2 linked regions of the Homo sapiens genome follow. The protein of the gene in region 2 interacts with the protein of the main gene of each other region in a biochemical or structural test. Each region holds a gene or a part of one and is shown on either strand. Other genes may lie near its edges.

Region 1 (7,987 bases), on a different chromosome or scaffold from region 2:
GCATTTCATTCGAGCACTTTTATTTTCTTAAGCCAGTTAATTAGAGCTCTTTTAAGCATTTTCAGTAGTGAAGCATTGTGTACACAACACATAAATACATAGACGTATTAGGCATGCTGATAGAAGTACATCTTATGGATACACTCAGATTATTGATAACCTGCTTCACAACCCTAGGCAGTTGTCAGCTAACTAGCCTTATGTTTGCATATTAAAGGAAACAACTCAGGTGAAAATCAAATAGCAAAATTTACATCATAAGGTACAGAGAGAAAAAGTCTGATGGTGCCAGAGGGAGATGAAAGATGAATGCCAAATCAAACATAAAATTAAAGAAATTTGCCGGGTGTGGTGGTTCATTCCTGTAATCCCAACACTTTGGGGGGCCGAGGTGGGCGGATCACAAGGTCAGGAGATCGAAACCATCCTGGCTAACACGGCGAAACCCCGTCTCTATTAAAAATACAAAAAATTAGCTGGGCGTGGTGGTGGGCGCCTGTAGTCCCAGTTATGTCTGTACTCTCTGGAGTACAGAGATCACCCCACTGTACTCCAACCTGGGTGACAGCGAGACTCTGTCTCAAAAAAAAAAAAACAAAAAAGAAATTTATCATAGGATTGTATAAGGAGACTAGTTTTATTTAGATAAAGGGACTACCTTTTAAGTGGATCTCTGAGCTCTGGGCAGAGCCCACACTGAATCCTGGGTCTCCAAGAAGGGACACTTATTATGAGGTTAGAACACGTGATGCTTTTACAGTGCACTTTTTAAAAAACTTCTTTTAAACAAAGACATTTCTAAGTGTCTAAACCATAGTCTTCCTTAAAAACCCAAGGGTAGGCTGGGTGCAGTGGCTTATGCCTGTAATCCCAGCACTTTGGGAGGCTGAGGCGGGCGGATCATGAGGTCAGGAGATCGAGACCATCCTGGCTAACACGGTGAAACCCGTCTCTACTAAAAATACAAAACAAACAAACAAACAAACAAACAAACAAAAAACAAGCTGGGCATGGTGGCGCTTGTAGTCCCAGCTACTTGGGAGGCTGAGGCAGGAGAATGGCGTGAACCCGGGAGGCGGAGCTTGCAGTGAGCCGAGATTGCGCCACTGCACTCCAGCCTGGGCGACAGAGTGAAACTCAGACTCAAAACAAACAAACAAACAATACAAAAAACAAAAAACAAAAAAACCCAAGGGTAACCTCTGTTGCAATAACTATTTTAGTCAAAAAAAAAAACAAAAAAAAACCCAAAAAAAAACCACAAACAGGTAACAACAATACAAAAGTAAGCAGTTGAAGAGACGAGACGAACTTGCCTGTTTACACTCTGGGGATTGCATAAGAAAAAACAGGTTTCTCCCTTAAAGGGAGCCTGGTGCCTTCTCTGTTCTCTTTAAGGAACCCCAGCTATTATAAACTATTTTAGGTCCCTCATGCAGCAGAGGGTGCAAGAGAAAGGAGATACAGCCGAAGTAAATGAAGAAAACAGAATTCAGTCAACTGAGAAGAAAAAAACTTTCGCTCAAAAAAAGACAAGATTCTTGGAGAAAAACAAAAACAAAAACATGAAGTCCTTTTAAATACAAACACACACACGCACATGCGCACACACACACACACCACACATACACATGCACATCTTCGATGTTAGCTTTTAATTAAGCTGACTTTTAATCATTGAGCTCCTTTAAAAAAATCTTTTAAAATCTCATTACCATATTTCAGCTAGGACAAATTGCTGCTATTTCAGAAGCACAGCCATTGCTCTTTCAGTTTGGCCTGGCTAGCAAAAAGGTGGCCTCGTTGTGTAACTAAAGCCACTTAGTAGTCAAAATAAAAAATCTTTCCTTTTTTTTTTCCTTTTGCTGGCTGTTTTTCACCCCCTATCACATCATCCTTTGTGTATGTGTGTGTGTGTGAATTTAGCCACTTCAGAGGCCTTGTTCCCCATAATTTGGGACTTCCTTTGTATTTGATCAAGTCAGATAGAGTTGATCAAACCCAATGGGAAAAAGACTGAAAGAACAACAAAAAGAGAAATGAACAACAACAAAACAGTTAAGCAAAACAAATGATCACACAATTTATATGATTACTAAGCTTTCTAGTGGTAAGGAGAAATTAAGACCAGCTGGTTGTAATCTTAACTTTAGCCAAAACAAACCCCAATTCAGTTACTTACCTAGGGATGGGTTTCAGGCTGAAGACTGCTCTCTACCATCCTAGAAGCAGGGAAAAACCCTCATCTTCCCTGTTGGTTGCGAGCTCAAACACCATAAAGGAGTTACCTGCCTTCCATCAACATGGAAGCAGGAAAAATTTGCCTTCCTTGTGTTAGAAGCAAGTAAAACTCCAAAAAAAAAAGAGGAGTTGTACAACAAAATGAACTTTAGATCTTGACCAGATTTTGAAAGATAAGGTATTCTCTGGAGGGTGTGCTTCCGGGCCTCAGCAAATTGTCCTATTGGTTTGAGCCATAAAGATAGCTCAAGCTGGTACCAAGCACTGATAGCTTTGTCAAAGGTCAGGGGCGCCTCCAGTCAGAATTCTTCTGTGGTTACCAAAATATGAACCCCCCAAATCTGAGAAAGGTCTCAGTTAATTTAGAAAGTTTATTTTGCCAATGATGATGGTGTGACACAGCCTCAGGAGATCCCAATGACATGTCCCCAAGGTGGTCAGAGCACAATTTAGTTTTATACATTTTGGGGAGACTTGAGACGTCACTCAACATACGTAAGATGAACATTGTTTGGGTCTGGAAAGACAGGGAGGGGGCTTCCCGGTCATAGGTAGATAAGAGACAAATGTTTGCATTCTTTTGAGTTTCTAATTATCCTCTCAAAAGGAGGCAATCAGATATGCATTTAGCTCAGTGATCAGAGGGGTGACTTTGAAAGAATGGGAGGCAGGTTTGCCTTAAGCAGTTCCCAGCTTGACTTTTCCCTTTAGCTTAGTAATTTTGGGGGCTCAAGATATTTCCCTTTCAGACCTCTTCAGTAGAATTCTTTCTTCTGATGAGGCAAGCATTGAGTTTTATGTAGACCTGTATGGATTTCCCACCACTCACATGAAGACCATGACCTGTGACACATTCCCTGGAGGTCCTGAGAACATGTACCCAAGGCAGTTGAGTTACAACTGGTTTTATACAGTTTAGGGAGGCATCAGACAGTAATCAATATAAGCAGGGTATGCATTGGTTCCTTCTGATTGAGGGAGGAGCTTACAGGTCATAGGTGAATTCAAAGACTTTTCTGATTGGCGCTGGGCACGGTGGCTCACACTTGTAATCCCAGCATTTTGGGGAGCCAAGGCGGGTGGATCACTTGAGGTCAGGAGTTCGAGACCAGCCTGGACCAACATGGTGAAACCCTGTCTCTATTAAAAATACAAAAATTAGCTGGGCATGGTGGCACTCCTGTAATCCCAGCTACTTGGGAGGCTGAGGCATGAGAACAGCTTGAACCCAGGAGATGGAGGTTGTAGTGAGCTGAGATCACGCCACTGCCTGAGCAACAGAGTGAGACTCCATCTCAAAAAAAAAAAAAAATTTCTGATTTTCAATTGGTTGAAAGAAGTTATTATCCAAAGACTTGGAATCTTGGTATACAACAACAAAATTTTTTTTAAATAAAAAATTTTAAAAAAGACAACCTGGAATCAATAGAAATAAGCATCTGGGTTAAGATAAGGAGTTGTGGAGACCAAGGTTCTTTTTTTTTGAGACAGAGTCTCGCTCTGTCGCCAGGCTGGAGTGCCGTGGTGCGATCTCAGCTCACTGCAACCTCCACCTCCTGGGTTCAAGCGATTCTCCTGCCTCAGCCTCCCAAGTAGCTGAGACTACAGGCGTGTACCACCATGCCCAGCTAATTTTTGTATTTTTAGTAGAAACGGGGTTTCACCATGTTGGCCAAGAGGGTCTCTATCTCTTGACCTCGTGATCCTCCCACTTTGGCCTCCCAAAGTGCTGGCATTACAGATGTGAGCCGCTGCACCCGGCCCAAGGTTCTTATTATGTAACATAGATGGTAAATGTCTAAGGCGTTAAAAGGTGCCAGACTCTTAGTTAAATCTCCCTTAGATCAGGATAAAACCTGGAAAGAGGCTGGACGCGGTGGCTCATGCCTGTAATCCCAGCACTTTGGGAGGCCAAGGCAGGTGGATCACGAGGTCAGGAGTTCAAGACCAGCCTGGCCAAGATGGTGAAACCCTGTCTCTACTAAAAATAGAAAAATTATCTGGGCACAGTGGCAGGCACCTGTAATCCCAGCTACTTGGGAGGCTGAGGCAGGAGAATCGCTTGAACCCAGTGGGTGGAGGTTGCAGCACGCTACTGCACTCCAGCCTGGGCCACAGAGTGACTCTGTCTCAAAACAAAACAAAACAAAACAAAAAACCTGGAAAGGGGAGGGGATTCTCTACAGATTCTAGATTTTCCCCACAAAAGACAGCTTTTTGGAGCTATTTAAAAAAAAAATCAGAGGAATATATTTTGGGGGTAAAATACATTGATTTCTTTCAGGGCCTGCTATCTGTCAGGTGATGCTAGAGTCAGGTTGGAATTTGGTATCTTATTGCTACAAAGAGTCTGTTTTGTGTCTTAAGATCAGAATGCCTTAAGGTCTCTGTTTTAATGTTAATGCTGGTCAGTTGTGTCTGAATTCTAAAGGAAGGAGGGGGATAATGAGGCTTGTCCTAAACCTCTTCCCATCACAGCCTGAATTAATTTTTCAGGTTTATTTTGGAATGCCCTGGGCTGAGAGGGAGGTCCATTCAGTCGGTTGGGAGGCTTAGAATTTTATTTTTGCCTTACAGTTTCCCAAAACGTCCAGTGAACCTCGCCTCTCCTTTAGAAGTGTCGTCCCTGGAGCCCACGAAAATGTCTGCAAGATCTGCAAGGGCCACCTTAAAGCCCGTGCCACCTTAAGCAGGCCCCACCCCTGGCCTAGCCAATGGGCTGACAGCAGCAGTAGCTGCTGCCACAGTAGCTGACTGGTCACCCTGCCACCCAGTGCTCACACCCTCTGGCCAGTGCCTGGCTATGGCCCGACTGCTCAGGTCTGCAACCTGGGAGCTGTTCCCCTGGAGGGGCTACTGCTCCCAGAAGGCAAAGGTACCGGGAGAGAAGAGAAGTCCTCTGGAGGGATGAGGTGGGGAGCGGGGAGCAGGGGGTTCTGATCCCAAGTTTCCTGGGCTCTGTGACGCCCCAGCACCAAGTGACCTGACCTTGGGCAAAAGGGCACTGGGCTTACCCTGTGGCAACTGTGGGTGGGTGTAGAGTGAGATCAGCTGAGTCCCCACTGCTACCATGAGTGGGGCTGGGGGAGTCAAATGGATGCCCCTGGAATAAAACACACCTGTGGAAGAAGGCCCTGAAGGAAAGGGCCTGGGTTCCAGGCCAGGCTCTGTCCTTAACTTGGCCTCCATTTCTCATCTGTAAAATGGGAAGAAACACATCCCCCGCCCCGCCGCGCCCCGCCCCCCACGAAGGGCCCAGAAGCCCCAGGCAACGTAGAGTGGGGAGGGGGCAGTGGAAGCTTTTCCTCCCCCTAATTCCCTTATCAAGCTCTGAGTTCCCTGTGGCTGGGGTGGTGCTTGGTTGGCCCTGGAGAAAGGAGGAAGTGAGGGATCTTTTCGGTTGCTCAGGCTGGGCTGGCTATTGAAGGAACCCTGCTGATAGCCTTTTTGGAGAGTGAATTCTGGTTTTTTATTTGGATGGCTGGGCGCTGTGGCTCACGCCTGTAACCCCAGCACTTTGGGAGGCCGAGGCAGGTGGATCGCTTGAGCCCAGGAGTTTGAAACCATCCTGGGCAACATAGTAAGACCCTGTTTTTATTAAAAAAGAAAACATTAAAAAAATTCTGGTGGCGTTTTTTTCTGAGGGGAAACTTTGACCCCCAATGGCTCTGTTTGGAAAAGAGGCATTTCTGGATAGTGGGTTTGTTTAAAGTGGGCCCACCTGGCAAGGATGTTGTCAGCGGGGCGGGCGCAGGGGAGGCTCACTCCAGCCTCCAGCCCCCAGCCCTCCCCCCGACACTGGGGCAGGGCTGTGGCCCCATGTGTCTTTCGGGGGACCCTGGCAGTGTGTTTCTTCCCTGCAGGGAGAGCTCTGCAGGGACTTCGTAGAGGCTCTGAAGGCCGTGGTGGGCGGCTCCCACGTGTCCACTGCCGCGGTGGTCCGAGAGCAGCACGGGCGCGATGAGTCGGTGCACAGGTATGGGAGGGTTCGCGGGCCCCTCCCCTGTCTTCTGGATTCAACCCCAGCTGAGAGAGAGGGTGCTGGGTTGCCTTCCTCCTCACTCATCTGTTTTGGGGTGCTCTGGCATGTTCTCTGCCCCTCGCTTGCTGTAGCCTCAGGCCCTGCAACACCTCGGGACCAGAGGGTGTCACGCCCCGCTAAATCGCTGAGGGTCTGGTTCTAGGTGCGAACCTCCTGATGCTGTGGTGTGGCCCCAGAACGTGGAGCAGGTCAGCCGGCTGGCAGCCCTGTGCTATCGCCAAGGTGTGCCCATCATCCCATTCGGCACCGGCACCGGGCTTGAGGGTGGCGTCTGTGCTGTGCAGGTACAGTGGGGCTCCCTCGCCCGGCCCGAGGATGGTCCCAGCACACCTTGGCACACCTGTGGCTGCCTCCCCCGCCACACACGGCACCTTGGGTCTGCTCCCGCCCGTGGGCTGCCTGCCTCTGGGGGTCTGGTCTGGCTGCTGGGGGGACACCCGCGGGGTGTGGTCCGGGGACGTGGCCAGGTCAGAGACCCAGGTCTGCAGTGGTCTTAGCACCTGCCCCAACCAGGGCGGCGTCTGCGTTAACCTGACGCATATGGACCGAATCCTGGAGCTGAACCAGGAGGACTTCTCTGTGGTGGTGGAGCCAGGTGTCACCCGCAAAGCCCTCAACGCCCACCTGCGGGACAGCGGCCTCTGGTTTCCCGTGGGTAGGACTCGCGAACCTTTCCTGGGACCCTGAGGGCACCGTGGGAGCAGGGCTGTGTCTGGGGTTCAGGGGACCTTCCTCCCCCAGCCCGAGGGAAAGGACCTCCGGTCCCTGAGGCTGCCTTCTGTACGCCGCCCTCCAGACCCAGGCGCGGACGCCTCTCTCTGTGGCATGGCGGCCACCGGGGCGTCGGGGACCAACGCGGTCCGCTACGGCACCATGCGGGACAACGTGCTCAACCTGGAGGTGGTGCTGCCCGACGGGCGGCTGCTGCACACGGCGGGCCGAGGCCGGCATTTCCGGTGAGCGCCCTCTGCGGGGGGCCCGGGCTCTGGCCCTGGGCACTGCTGGCGGGCTGCCCTGCAGAGACCGGGCTGTGAAAAGCACCTCCTGGCGGCCCCCTGGTTTGGCAGGCTAGGCTTCCTCAGGCTCTGAAGCCCTGTCAGCTGGGCCAAAGTGGATGGGACCAGGGTTTGCTCTCCCTGCCTGAGGCCGACTGGCTTTGTGGAGCAGAAAGCACTGGGCCAGGGAAACTGGGCCCGAGGGAGGCCAGCCCAGACCTCAGTGCCTGGGGTCGGTGTCTTGGGTTCCAGCTTCGGCTTCTGGCCAGAAATCCCTCATCACACAGCCTGGTACTCACCTTGTGTGTCCCTGGGACGTAGGAAGAGTGCAGCCGGCTACAACCTCACGGGGCTCTTCGTGGGCTCCGAGGGGACGCTGGGCCTCATCACAGCCACCACCCTGCGCCTGCACCCTGCCCCTGAGGCCACAGTGGCCGCCACGTGTGCGTTCCCCAGTGTCCAGGCTGCTGTGGACAGCACTGTACACATCCTCCAGGCTGCAGTGCCCGTAGCCCGCATTGGTGAGCTGAGGATGGGGGCAGTCAGGGTGGGCTCCCTGGAAGAGGCCCCCTGGGAAGGCCAGGCCTCACCTGGCCTGCCATCTCCCTGGATCCAGAGTTCCTGGATGAAGTCATGATGGATGCCTGCAACAGGTACAGCAAGCTGAATTGCTTAGTGGCGCCCACACTCTTCCTGGAGTTCCATGGCT
Region 2 (7,020 bases):
CTTATCTGAAGCCAGGATGGATTTGGCTGTCTATGTTGCCCCTTCTGGTCAGCTGTGACTGAAGCCAGCTGTGACTGGTCTTGTCTGAGAGAGAACCTATGTCAGGCAGGGGGGCAACACATGCCAACTCTGTATGTAAGAGTCAGAGAGGGAAGCATTTCAGGGCCTGGGCACCAGTAACTGCATGAAAGAAATCCTGACCATTACCCGCCAGACACTGACTCACACATGTCAAAAATAGGGAGAACCTTGAGACCTTGTGGCTTGAACCTTGAGAACCTTGAGAACCTTGAGACCTTGTGAGTCTGGTCCTGCCTGACTCACGTGACTTTCGATAAGTCATTTCTCACATCTAAGCCCGGGTCATGTGCATCTGCGATAGAGTCTTATACATGAACCTCTACCTTTAGACTCCATGTCCAGTGCTCTTTGACATGACTGCATTCTATACTGTTTCCTGGCAGCTAGTCCTGTTTGGGAGAAAATTGGCCTTGGTTTTAAAATGGCCACTTATCTTCTCTGCTTCTGTCCAGGAGGTCTGGCTTAAGGGCTAGCTCTGCTGGATATTTGGCGAGCCCCCTCCCCGACTAGTCCCCACAGCCATGCCAGCACCCCCATGCTTCAGCCCGGTAGCTGCAAGGCATCCATGCAATTGAAAAGAACTCCAAGGGCTGGACTCCATCTGTTGGGGCTTTTGTCCAAAGAGAGCTAGCATTCTTTAAAAAACAGGATTAGGAATATTAGAAAGAATTCTAGAATTAGAGTAAAAGGGATTCGGGTTTGAGTCTGGGCTCTGCCATGTACTCACTGAGATTTTGGGCAGGTCATTTCACCATGGTGAACCTCAATTTCTCCACTTATAAAACAAAGATGATTATACCTACTGCACAGGTTGTTACAAGGAGAAAACTGGGGGGTCTTGATATGGAAATCCAGCCTTCTAGGCCTGTATTCTCCTTTGATCAACTTTGGTAACTGCGTGGGAACAGGAAATTGTAGGGAAGCTTTCCTTAGTAGAGGGTGTCTTGTCTTTCCCAGGTAGGAGGAAGATGCCCTGTTCAAAGGAGTTATAGTAGAAGAGATTTGAGCATTTTTTGGTACATCCCTTTTAACCCTTTGATATTTCCTGAGAACCCTTTGATGGGATGAGGATTTGAGCAGCATACATTTCAGGAACGATGGGTAGAAGAGCCCCAGAGAGGAGCACACTTTTCTATATTATTACCACAAGATAATCACCTGTCTGTCCGCAGGCAACTCTGTAGCTGCTGGAAAAGGCGTTCAGAGACGCAGGGTCTACCTTACATTGTGCCCAGGCCAGTGTTCCCCTGACTTCTAGATAAATCTTCACAATTAAATCTCTAGACTAATCATGAAATCTAGAAAGTAAGTTTGCTGTCCAAAAGAAATAAATATAATGCAGCAACATATGTAAATTTAAATGTTCTAGTAACCATAGTTTAAAAATGGTACAAATAAACAGATGAAATTAATCTTAAAACATTTTATTTAACTCAATATATCCAAAACATTATAATTTCAATGTATACTTCAATATACAAATGATCAGTGGGATATTTTACATGATTTTTGCGTTTGTACTGAGTGTTTGAAATCTGATGTGCATTTTGTGCTTACAGCACAGCATGTGGCTGTGGCCACAGCACTGGACAGCACAGTTCTCCTTTGTCTGTTCACAAAAGCTCATCAGAAGCCAGGGAGTGGCTACAGAATTGGCCAGGGCACCTTAGGGTATAGGCAGTCTTGGAGTGATGGGAATGAGCACTGGACTAGGAGTCAAAAGAGCTGAGGTAAGCCGTGGCTCTGCAACTTACTATTGTATAATTGTGAACAACTCACTGATTTACATTGACACATTCATTCATTCATTCATTCATGTACTCAATAAATGTTTACAGAGGACTAATTCTGGCCCAGGCCTTGTGCTAAATTCTCGGAATATTAAGACAAAACAGGCTTGCCCTCAAGGAACTCAGAGTCTAGACCATCAGCAAATATGCAAGCAGTTGTTGTGGAGGTTGGTAACTGACAGTAACAAGAAGGGTAGAGACAAGTGTACACACCTTCTATGTCTCAATATAAGGCATTCTCCCCCCAAATTCATCTTCATAAAAAAGATATGCCTTGTGTTTAAAGCCTTATAAAGTCTCTCCTGCTGTAAGACATTCTTCCAATTATTTTATTTACTGATTTAAACTTTTTTTTGGTACAGATATTTTTTAACACATACAATGTTGACAGAATAGTCAAATAAAGTCCCAGAATAAACTCCCTTGCCCCACACTCATCAGCCCCTGGCTAATCCTACCTCATCTACAACCTTATCTTCTTCCTCCACTCCCATATTCAATTACTTTATCTTTTAAAAAAGATAATATCATTTGAAGAAGGCATATTAGCCTGAAATAACCTCATTCAATGCTGGATTGCTTATAGGGATCATTTGATGGAAATGTTTTTTTAAAAGGCAAATACATTTAATGCACACATATTATTATTCCTGGGGATATTATCTCCCTATTATAAGCACTGAGCATCACTATAAACAACCTTTAAGAATCATTGTTGCAAAGCAATGTAGCAAGTCATTACATGGTGGAAATTCTATATCTTTTAAAAAATCTGCCCTAATGCTATGCTAATAGGTCCTTCTTGTTGAGATGCAATTTCTAGGTGACAACCTCCTACTCAGGTATAAAACAGGGCTGCCTCTTTAAACGTACAGATAGAAGTGAAAGTGAGCTGCTCAGAAAAGCTGGGCCAGCTGCCCCCAGAAATGATTCTGGTGGTGAGGGAGATGCCGATGTTGAAGATGCAAAGACAGAATTGGAGATAATTATTCCCCAAATTTATGTGGGATTAGAAAAAAGTAACCTTTCCAAATCAATATATTGTTGATTTATATTACTAAATTAAAATTATAAGTAGATATTTGACATTTTTATTTATATCTTTAAAAGTTTCCTTTTAAATTTGCAAAATAAATCTTTCTATAAATCCTCTCTTTGGAAAAATGAGGGCTTGATTGCCTTATACTGGAGGATACTTTACATTAGGTAATATACAGTAACCAGGGGGCTTGAGCCAATAGAAGCCTAAGGAGTTAATAAGGCAGGTCTACCCCCTTCCCCACCTCCTCTGCTTCCAGAATTTGACCAAAATTAGCCTCAATGGCAATTGTCTGCTTGAATATCACAGTGTCCTTCAAAGGCTGTGGTAAGTACAGAAAGTGCTCAATCCTGATTCTTTTATGATTAAGAAAAAAGTAAGTTTCTCTCCTGCCTTAACCCACCCCCTGCCAACGCGCGCGCCCACAAACACACACACACACACACACACACACACACACACACACTTCCCTGATGTCATTTGGGAAGACTCAGGGATGCAGTCCTTAGCAGGTCTGAGACTATATATCTCGTTCTAATGCTAGCTTCCACCCTTTTCCAGCTGGGAACCACTGAACCCAATTTTGTCATCTGTGAGATCGGGACTGTCTTGGAGTGCACAACTCAGGGCAGATACTCTGGTCAGGAATCAACATTGTATTCTTGGCTCAGGGGCCCCTCATGCTGGGTCTCTGGCCCCGAGCATGGCATTGGGAGTGCAAAGAAGGGGAGAAGGATTTCAATTCCAATCCCATGACCCTTCCTTTTCCTGGCAGTGGCCTGCAGGAAGGCTCTTGACAGCACGACAGTCGCGGCTCATGAGTCGGAGATCTACTGCAAGGTGTGCTATGGGCGCAGATATGGCCCCAAAGGGATCGGGTATGGACAAGGCGCTGGCTGTCTCAGCACAGACACGGGCGAGCATCTCGGCCTGCAGTTCCAACAGTGAGTTACTGCCCTGCTCCCCCTTGCCTGTTAAAGTCTCCAATTATCAGGACAGTTCATTTCGTTCCCATAGCAACGTTTTCTGGAAGTGGGAGAATGGACTCTATTGTTGACTTGCCAACAATAGGAATACTCAGTCTGACCAAGTTTGAACAATGTGTCATCTCTCCAAAGACTCTCTTTAAATTATTTGCCATTCTAAAGGGCAATTACTTTTACACCATGGCTCTTGGTTTGCATGTCAAGAGAAAACCCAGGATGTACAGATGTTCCATTGTTTGACCTTTGCAAAACTGCATGGAGTCTCCTTTCTTCCCCGTTGAGAGTTTCTGTGTAAATCACACAAATATGGCAGGGCAGCAATGGCCATTCTTTGTGTGCCTGTCATGAAAAGATTTCTTCCCTTGGATTGTAAGATGACAAACGTCCACATGGCAGGGGGAGTGTGTCTGCAAGGATGGGCTGTGCCTCAGAGTAAACAATCAATCATGATTTTTCTGGGGGTTCCCTGGCTGCCTGTTGCCAATACAGTGCTAGAGTTCCCGCCACATTATCCTAGGGAAGCTGGGACATCACTCTGGCCACCTCCATCCACCAGTCTGGTCCCCTGGGTCCACTTTCTTGATAACCACATTGACCTCCAGCCCAGAATTGAGGAAAGTCTGATGGCCACTGGCCTGACACTACTCTCTGGCCAGCTGGCCTCCAGGCTGAGCTCTGCACTGCGACTGGCCAGAAAGGCCCAGCCCAACCAAGGAAGTGTCCCATGGAGGGCCTCCCCCAGAGAGCACTTCAGCCATCTGAGGAATCAGCTGATCCCTTCAAAAGAGAGTAAGCCACAGGAGAGCATGGAAACGTGGAGAGATGTGTGATTAGTCATCTTAGAGAGAAGACTTCTTTTTGTTAGTTTGTCTTATTACTCAATCTCAAATGGAGACTCTTGTTAAGGAAGAAAACATACCACTGCATTCTCTGCCTCACATTGACTGAAGTTCACTTTTCAACATTAGGGCTTCCTAGTGATGCTGCACAAAGAGTAACAAGGTCTGAAGACCTAGGATTTCCTCCTAGGTCCATCATTCATGAGCTGCCTGGCCTTGGGCAGTCACACTCTGATCCTCACTCTCCTCCAACCAGCCCTGCCTACCTTATAGGGTTGTGGTACAGCTCAAGTGATATAATATACAAGCAAACACCAAAAGATACCAACACATGAGAGGCTATTATTATGTCTCTATTTTGGACATTGTTCTCCTGGGACAGGTGACCCTTGGAGGCAGGACGACAGCCTGGCTTGTGATAAGGAATGCATCAGCTCATGGACTGTGGTTCATCAGGAACTGATTAGCACCCATTGTCAAAATCCCACCTTGCTCTGTAATTTTCACAACTCTCTTTAGAAAGGAAAGAAGTGGCCTTGCAAATGGTCCAGAAAAACACAAATAAGCACAGTAGTAATAACAACACAACAACAACAATAACACAAGCTAACATAACTAGAACATTTGCTAAGTGCTTCACAACAAAAAGGAAAGCTCTAAACCCATTTTAGCAAACATTTATTAGCCCTTACTACATGCCAGGCGGGCACTGTTCTAAGTGCTTTACAAATGTCGCCTCATTTAACCCTCTCAACAACGCTATGAGAAAGACACCATCATTATCCCCATTTTCCAGATGAGGAGTCTGAGACACACGGAAGTGAGGTCACTTTCTCAAGGCCACACAGCTCTTCTACTCTTTGCCAAGGGAAATCTACGTTTCATTCATTCGTCTATTTCCAACAGGTCCCCAAAGCCGGCACGCTCAGTTACCACCAGCAACCCTTCCAAATTCACTGCGAAGTTTGGAGAGTCCGAGAAGTGCCCTCGATGTGGCAAGTCAGTCTATGCTGCTGAGAAGGTTATGGGAGGTGGCAAGGTAAGACCTTCTGTATGAGCCAGACAGAATTTGCTCATCTCCACCAGGCCATTTGGGAGGAATGAGAGAAAAATTGGGAGCTGCAAGCAGCTGTCATTCTCTCTAGCTCCCAGAACAACTTTAGAAACCACACATCCTCAGCCACTTTCCCAGGCTGGGGCTGTCTGTCATCTAGCATTGCCCTTTGAAAGCTGGAACTGGTGCAGTTTGAAGCAGCAAGCATTATTCTACTAGATGGAAGGCACCCAGCTGAAAGTTCTGGGATACAAAGCAAAAGCCCGTCTACCCTCCAGTGTCCACAATCCCCCCAAAAGATGTCAGCCCCAGACCAACCACTGCCTAACTCAACCTGTTGCTGCCACCATGACCAATGGATATAGCAGACGCCTCACAGTAGTGAGAAGCATCCTCACTTACGAACTTCCTGGCTCTCAGGAAAGTCATCAGATGTCCGAGACACTCATGCATATGTGCTCTGCAAGTTCCAGTTTCAGGCCCAAAGCCTGGGTACTCACCAAAGGAGTCAGACCTGAGGAAAGAGAAAAATTATGTTTATACCACATGGTGGGAGGAAGGGCCGTGGGGAGCATCTAACTTCAAACACAAGGGCAGGCTCCACCCTAAAACTGGCCATTTGAAGACATAGGAGAAGCCCTGGGCTGTACCTGGTAGACACGCAGATGTGCAGGAGGATGGAGATCTAGAACATCGAAATTATGCAACTCTGCCTCAGAATTACACAGAGGAATTAAACCAGAGAGTTAAAACAAGGTTGAATTCCCTGAACAATTGCCTGATTTCTTTATTTTTTTTCCTTCTGTAACTTTATACTCAACATAAACATCACCCAGTGCCCCCAGCCCAAGTCCTTCTCTGACCAGTTTGTTCCTTGGATCTTTTTGGCCTGGGGAAGCCCTTTCCCGTTTAGTCTATTCTGAAGGAAAACATATGCAAATCACCATGACAAATCCATTTTCAGGCTTCTGAGAAGTGCTGGCTAAGGCCATAGCATCTCATTTTCTCCAAACCCCTGGAGAAATTATGGGGCCCATTAGGTAAGCAAATGGTTAAGACGTGTCACTCCTCTGGATGCTGCTGGTCAGGGACTTGAAATGGAAACAGAATGTGTTGCCTACCTCATTAAATATGCAACTTTTCTGTGCCCCTCAGCCTTGGCACAAGACCTGTTTCCGCTGTGCCATCTGTGGGAAGAGTCTGGAGTCCACAAATGTCACTGACAAAGATG

The links.
Region 1: the proteins of CSRP3 (region 2) and LDHD form a complex in vitro, tested with the Homo sapiens proteins (one study listed by BioGRID).

The regions. Positions count from the first base shown.
Region 1 is NC_000016.10:75,113,778-75,121,764, reverse strand, and holds the start of LDHD (probable D-lactate dehydrogenase, mitochondrial isoform 2 precursor), read left to right. Parts: upstream 1-4,984; 5' UTR 4,985-5,044; coding exon 5,045-5,116; intron 5,117-6,104; coding exon 6,105-6,217; intron 6,218-6,425; coding exon 6,426-6,567; intron 6,568-6,796; coding exon 6,797-6,938; intron 6,939-7,079; coding exon 7,080-7,239; intron 7,240-7,530; coding exon of another isoform or gene 7,531-7,599; coding exon 7,600-7,799; intron 7,800-7,894; coding exon 7,895-7,987. UniProt on the Homo sapiens protein: Involved in D-lactate, but not L-lactate catabolic process.
Region 2 is NC_000011.10:19,184,970-19,191,989, reverse strand, and holds part of CSRP3 (cysteine and glycine-rich protein 3), read left to right. Parts: intron 1-3,685; coding exon 3,686-3,854; intron 3,855-5,641; coding exon 5,642-5,774; intron 5,775-6,944; coding exon 6,945-7,020. UniProt on the Homo sapiens protein: Positive regulator of myogenesis. Acts as a cofactor for myogenic bHLH transcription factors such as MYOD1, and probably MYOG and MYF6.